Homo sapiens: one gene and its partner. Changing the gene in region 2 together with the main gene of any one other region gives a genetic interaction. Each region holds a gene or a part of one and is shown on either strand. Other genes may lie near its edges.

What was found. Genes that interact genetically often act in the same process or in processes that back each other up.
Region 1: changes in TTC23 (region 2) and ETAA1 are lethal when combined (synthetic lethality), as found in Homo sapiens cells (one large-scale study listed by BioGRID).

What each region holds. Positions count from the first base shown.
Region 1 is NC_000002.12:67,403,833-67,407,332, forward strand, and holds part of ETAA1 (ewing's tumor-associated antigen 1), read left to right. Parts: coding exon 1-1,503; intron 1,504-3,500. UniProt on the Homo sapiens protein: Replication stress response protein that accumulates at DNA damage sites and promotes replication fork progression and integrity.
Region 2 is NC_000015.10:99,239,582-99,243,081, forward strand, and holds part of TTC23 (tetratricopeptide repeat protein 23), read right to left. Parts: intron 1,979-3,500; 5' UTR 1,784-1,978; intron 1-1,783. UniProt on the Homo sapiens protein: Participates positively in the ciliary Hedgehog (Hh) signaling.

The DNA of each region.
Region 1 (3,500 bases), on a different chromosome or scaffold from region 2:
AAAACTTACTAGGTAGTGAACCTTTTGCTATGCAAAATATCGACATGCCTGAACTCTTTCCTTCTAAAACAGCCCATGTTACTGATCAAAAGGAAATTTGTACCTTTAATAGTAAAACTGTTAAAAATACGTCAAGAGCAAATACAAGTCCAGATGCCAGGTTAGGAGATTCAAAAGTATTACAAGATCTTTCTTCAAAGACATATGACAGAGAATTAATAGATGCAGAATATAGATTTTCACCAAATTCAAATAAATCAAACAAATTATCCACTGGAAATAAAATGAAATTTGAGAACTCTTCCAATAAAATTGTTATTCAAGACGAAATTCAAAATTGTATAGTTACATCTAATCTGACAAAAATAAAGGAAGATATTCTTACTAACTCTACTGAAGCTTCTGAAAGGAAGTCAGCTTTGAACACAAGGTATTCTAATGAACAGAAAAATAAGTGCATTTTAAATCAGTCTATTAAAGCCCCTGTTAATACTGATCTTTTTGGCTCTGCAAATCTAGGCAGTAAAACCAGTGTTAGTAACCCAAATCAGACTAGTGCATCAAAAGTAGGTTCTTTCTTTGATGATTGGAATGATCCCTCATTTGCCAATGAAATTATTAAAGCATGTCATCAATTAGATAATACCTGGGAAGCAGATGATGTAGATGATGATTTGTTGTACCAAGCATGTGATGATATTGAAAGACTAACTCAGCAACAAGACATTAGAAAGGACAGTAAGACATCAGAAAGTATATGTGAGATCAATAATAATTCCGAACATGGAGCCAAACTAACTCAGCAACAAGACATTAGAAAGGACAGTAAGACATCAGAAAGTATATGTGAGATCAATAATAATTCCGAACATGGAGCCAAAAACATGTTTGCTATATCTAAACAAGGAAGTAATTTGGTACAATCAAAGCATTTGAATCCAGGCAGCATTTCAGTGCAGACATCTTTGACAAATAGCTCACAAATAGATAAGCCAATGAAGATGGAGAAAGGGGAAATGTATGGAAATTCTCCAAGATTTTTAGGTGCCACAAATTTGACTATGTATTCTAAGATCTCAAACTGTCAGATAAATAATCTGCATGTGTCTTATACTAACACTGATGTTCCAATACAAGTGAATAGTTCCAAATTGGTTCTTCCAGGAAGTTCAAGTTTGAATGTAACTTCAGATCATATGAATACAGAAATTACTACTTATAAGAAGAAATTGAGTACTAATCAGCCATGCCATAAGACTGTAACAGATGAAGCTCAGAGCAACCTTAACACAACAGTTGGATTTTCAAAGTTTACATTTACAAGGATGAAAAATTCTCAGATTCTTTCTCAGTTTAATCAAAATTGTATAACTGGAAGTATGTCTGATACCAAAATTACACAGGGTGTGGAGAAAAAGAAAGGTGTCAACCCATTACTGGAGGAAGCTGTTGGACAGCAATCTTTGGTGAAACTTTCTGAATCTTTGAAACAATCTTCAAAAGGTATGTATGAAATATGAAATAGTTTTCTTTGAAAAGCATCTTAAAAAGTAGTAAAATAATTATTTGTTGTTTTTGAGTGTGAGTAATGTATAAGGTAAAACTATTCTATGACTAGTTAATTTTAAGAATTAACTAGAATTCTTAAAATGATACTTGGAAATAATTATACGGCATTATACAGAGTAGTTGGTTTATTTTTCAAAATATTACATTGAATTCTTTCCCAGCACTTAATACAATGACTGGCATATAGTAGGTACTCAGTAAATATTTTTTGAATAACTTATTCTTTCTTGGAAAATCATACCTTTAGATATATGTATTATAGTGTTCATTAAGATTGTATTTACTAAATTGTTTTAAAACTTGAGTAATCTGGGAAGCAGATGATGAAGCAGTGAGGTAAATAATATTTAGAAATTTAGAGCATTCTAATTAAACGTCTTTACTAGTGTGATATTTGATATAAACGTGCTAGCGGTGATGGTTAAAATTATGATTTACTTATTTGATAACAGCTATCATTTCTGATTCTTCCAATTTCTCTTTTCCCCAAGTCTCCATTCTATCAATAAGTTTCATTCTTTCAAAAACCGTATCCCCAGACTCCATTTTTCTTTCTACAACAAGTTAACATTTCTTGATGAGACTACTGCAGTTCTTTTATCTATCTCCTTTCAATTCTTATCTCCAAACAGTGGAATAGCCTTTTAAAATTGGATGGGCAAAAATGGCGTTTCTATGCTTAAAACAACCTTCAATGGCTGCCCGTCATATTTCAAATAAAATCCAAACTGTATACTGTGACCAACAAAGCTGTGGATTATCTCTCTTTAACCTGCGTCTCCTCTTTTTTCCTTACCTACTAAGCTTCAGCTATACCAGCTATCTTTTAGTTTTTCAAACAGTGTATGTTTTTCTTCCTTGTCCAGGAACTTAGACCGTGCTCTTCCCTTTGACTAAAACTACTTCTTTTCAACATGTGACCCCTTCCCCACTCTTTTGTTGGTGCTTTCTTACATCTCAGTATAAGTACTACTTTCTCACAGAGGCCTTCCTTGAAGAGTCTATAAATAGATCTCCTTGTTTATTTTTTATTTCCTAATTGCTTTCATCACAAGTTGAAATTAAATATTTAGTGACTCTTCTCTGTCTTGTTGGCATTACTGTTCCAACTTTCCTATCTAAGTGACTTTTTTTAAAAATTTACAATAGTAATATGCTAGTTATTTAAAAAGAAAAGTAAAACAGTATAGAATAATTTAAAGGAAAAAGTTAAGTCTTCTGTTTCTCCTTTCTGATAACCATCCCTTACGGAAAACCACTATTAATAGTTGGTATGATGTAGCATTTTCTATGAATATAAAAAGATATGTGTGTGTGTATGTACGTATATATGTGTATGCATATATATATACCTATAGATCTATTTAAATATTAATAAATCTGTATACCCACTATTTGGCAACTTGCTTTTGCCTTAATATATTATAGCTGTCTTTTCCTATTAGTACATATAAATTTATTTTAGTCCTGTTAATGACTATGTGATATATATGGTGGATGTATCATAATTTAACTGTTTCTCTGTGATGGAAGTTTGGGTTGGTTGCAGTCTTTTGCAATTACAAACAATACTCCAGTAAATATCCTTCTGCATAAATTTCCGCATGCTTGTATAATTGTATCTGTTAATTCCTAAAAAATTGCTACAAGAGGAAGTTTTAAAATTTGATGGATACCACCAAATTTCTATCCGAAGCAGTTATACCAATTTATCTTATCAAAACTTACAGTAAATAATTCTCTACACCCAAGGGTGTCCAATCTTTTGGCTTCCCTGGGCCACATTGGAAGAATTATCTTGGATCACACATAAGATACACTGACACTAACAACAGCTGATGAACTAAAAAAAAAAAAAAAAAAAATCACAAAAGAATCTCATAATGTTGTAAAAAAGTTTATGAATTTGTGTTGGGCTGCATTCAAAGCCA
Region 2 (3,500 bases):
CACCCTGTTGTACAGAGACACAGTGCTATTTGAGATCCTAAGATGTTGGCTAACTTTTTTCTAATAACTTCTTGCCTTATGCTTCCTCATCTGTTCAACCCCACTGGCTGATAAGATGACCATTTCAACAGGTGCTGCAGTCTAGGGAAAGAGCAGTAGCCAGAGATGGAGAATCTGAGATTCAAGAACCTGTGCTGTCCCAACTACCCATGTGATTTGGGCAATACCAACTAATATATACATAACACTTTATACTTTCACATGTTTTATCTCATGTGGCCCTTACAACCATGTAAGGTACAGAGGGTAGCTATTATCATCCCCATTTTATAAATAAAGACGATGAAATGAACCTAAATCAGTTGCACATCACACAGCCAGAATTAGCACCCTGGTCTTCTCATAATTTGGGGGTTTCCCATGACATCATCCTGCCTTTCACTGACCACAGTCTACAGCAGTGGGAAGCAAATGCTGTTGCTTTGGAAACCTAAGCCTGCATTTTAAAAAGTGATCATACATTTTTATAAACAGGAATGCAACATCTTCAATAGATTTAACTATATTTTCTTATCTTCCATTTAGTGGGAGGCAGAAAAGAAAGTTTAAAGATGAAATAAGTAAGAGGCCCTGCAGTATTTGTTATTCTGGGCCTCTGAACCTAGTGTTAAACTTCGAAATGGATTTAACTTTTCTTTTTTGGCTTAATTGTAAAAACTGGTTTGTCTCATGCTGCCTCTTAATATTGCATCCTTAAAAGAGAGGTTATATTTATTCTGAGCACTCATAGGCTCATCTAACTTGTATATATATATTTTTTTTCGCCAGTTAAAAAAAATTGAGCCATCATTTTAAAATTAGGAGTTTCACATGAAGATGTAGATTTTGGGGTTTCTGACTTCCTTTGAAAACTCAGAACACTTGTCAACACTAGATCTATGCCACCACAGGCAATAATCAGCTAGGGAAGAGGGGGAGCTGCCCTGGGGGCAAGGGTACTCTCCAGTTTGCCTGTTGCCACCAATCCCTATTGGCTACCGGACATGAAGGCAGCAAAGTCGTTCCCATTTGTCATTGTTCTTGTGTCTTATTGTAGGAAAGTAGGTCTCTGTATCCATTTCTCTCTTTCAAAGTGAAAGGCCAACAGAGAAGGATATAATTTTCCTGGCCAACACCACTCATTTTCTGTTATTTCGTCTAATCTAAAGCACCACTGACTATAAAGATGCTGCTTTTTTATACACCATTTGACTTGCAATTGTAACGTTCACTCTAATTTCAGAGATGTTCAAATGCCAAAAAAAATGTACGTCTCTGAATCAATGAAAGGAGGAGGTATGCTACCTGTCTGGCTTCTAGAGGCATTTGAGTCTGTGGCCTTACTTTAAATGTATGTGTTTCAATGTATGTGGCATCACACAGTAACATCCTCAACATAAAAACATACTTCTCAGGCAGGGCGCGGGGGCTCATGCCTGTAATCCCACCACTTTGAGAGGCTAAGGCTGGCAGATCACCTGAGGTCGGGAGTTCGAGGCCAGCCTGACCAACATGGAGAAACCCTGTCTCTACTAATACAAAAAATTAGCCAGGTGTGGTGGCACACACCTGGTAATCCCAGCGACTCGGAGGCTGAGGCACAAGAATCGCTTGAACCTGGGAGGCAGAGGTTGCAGTGAGCCGAGATTGTGCCACTGCACTCCACCCTGGGCAACAAGAGCGAAACTGTCTCAAACAAACAAACAAACAAACAAACAAAAAACATGCTTCTCAGTTCACTTACTTTGAGTTACATGCTTATCATCAGCCACTTTTCTTTGTAGTAGCTATAGCTGGGGCTTAAAATTTCATCAGACATCAGCCCAGGTCCCACAAACCATCCTCTTCTTGCCAGCCGTGGGTTCAGCTTTCTAGGTCTCTGAATCACAACTGCCAATGAGACCTACTCAGTCAGTTGATACTGTTCCTTCTGCCAGACCTGCCCAGTAGAATGTTAAAGCACATAATCAGCCCCAGATCAGGGTGTTAGGAAGAAGAGGTCTGAAGTGGAGTCTCAGTCTTCCAAGTGGTGATGTTCAAAATAATAACTGAAATAGCAGGAGGGCCAACCAATCTATATAGGTGCCAACTAGGCTGGAGCTCAGTTCTGAAGGTCCCCTGCTTTTCCAGGTGTGAACCGTTGGAGGCTGACTTGTGGAGAGATGTAGGGGAGCCTGAGGAAGGGGCAGGGGCCCTCAGGGCAGTGGCTTTTAGGAAATAAAAAACCTCATCAATCAGGGACGGTGGCTCATGCCTGTAATATCAGCACTGTGGGAGGCTGAGATGGGTTGATGGCTTGAGCCGAGGAGTTCAAGGTCAGGCTGGGCAACATGTCAAAACCCCGTCTCCACTAAAATTGCAAAAATTAGCCGAGTGTGGTGGCGCTCGGCTTCTCCAGCTACTTGGGAGGCTGACGGGAGAGGACTGCTTGAGCCCAGGAGGCGGAGGCTACAGTGAGCTGAGATCACACCACTGCACTCCAGCCTGGGTGACAGAACAAGATCCTGTCTCAGAAAAAAAAAAAAAAAGTTAAAAAAAAGAAGCCATTATGACTAGTTTCTTAACTAGTGAAAGTGTACGCTAGTTAAGAAGCAAACTTACCCATATGTAAGCTAACGCACTGGAAAAACACTCTAAAAAGATAAAAAATACCAAAAAAATAGTGATAAAAAAATAACAGAAAAATAGAAAATCTGAATAGATCTATAACAAGTAAAAAAATTAAATTAGTAATTAAAAATATTTATACAAGGTTAAGCCCAGGCTCAGATGGCATCAGTGATGTATTCTACCAAACCATTAAAGAAGAAACAACATGAGTATTTTGAAAACTCTAACAGAAGATAGAGAAGGAAACTCTCACTTGTTCTATGAGGTCAGTATTACCCTGATACCAAAGCCAGACAAAGACATCACAAGAAAATAACAAATGAATACCCTTCATGAATATGGACACAAAAATCCTCAACAAAATATTGGCAAACCAAATCTAGCAACATATACAAAGGATAATACATTATGATCAAGGGGAGTTTATCCTAGAAATGGAAGGTTGGTTTAACATCTGAACTCATTAATATAATACACTATACAGTAGAATGTGGTCACAAACCATCTGATCATCTTGATAGATGCAGAAAACACATTTGGCAAAATCCATTATCCAATCATGATTAAAAAAACTTCCCCAACCTGATAAAAGGCTGATAAAAGCCTGATTTTACAAATCAAAGTGGATTAAAGACTTAAATATAAGACCTGAAACTATAAAATTACCAAGAGAAAACACTGGGGAAACTCTCTGGGACAGTGGTCTGGGGAAAGAATTCTTAAGAAAGATCTCAAAAGTACAGGCAACCAAAACAAAAATGGACAAATGGGATCACATCAAGTAAAAAAGCTGCTGTATAGCAAAGGAAACAATCAACAAAGTGAAGAGACAACCCACAGAATGGGAGAAA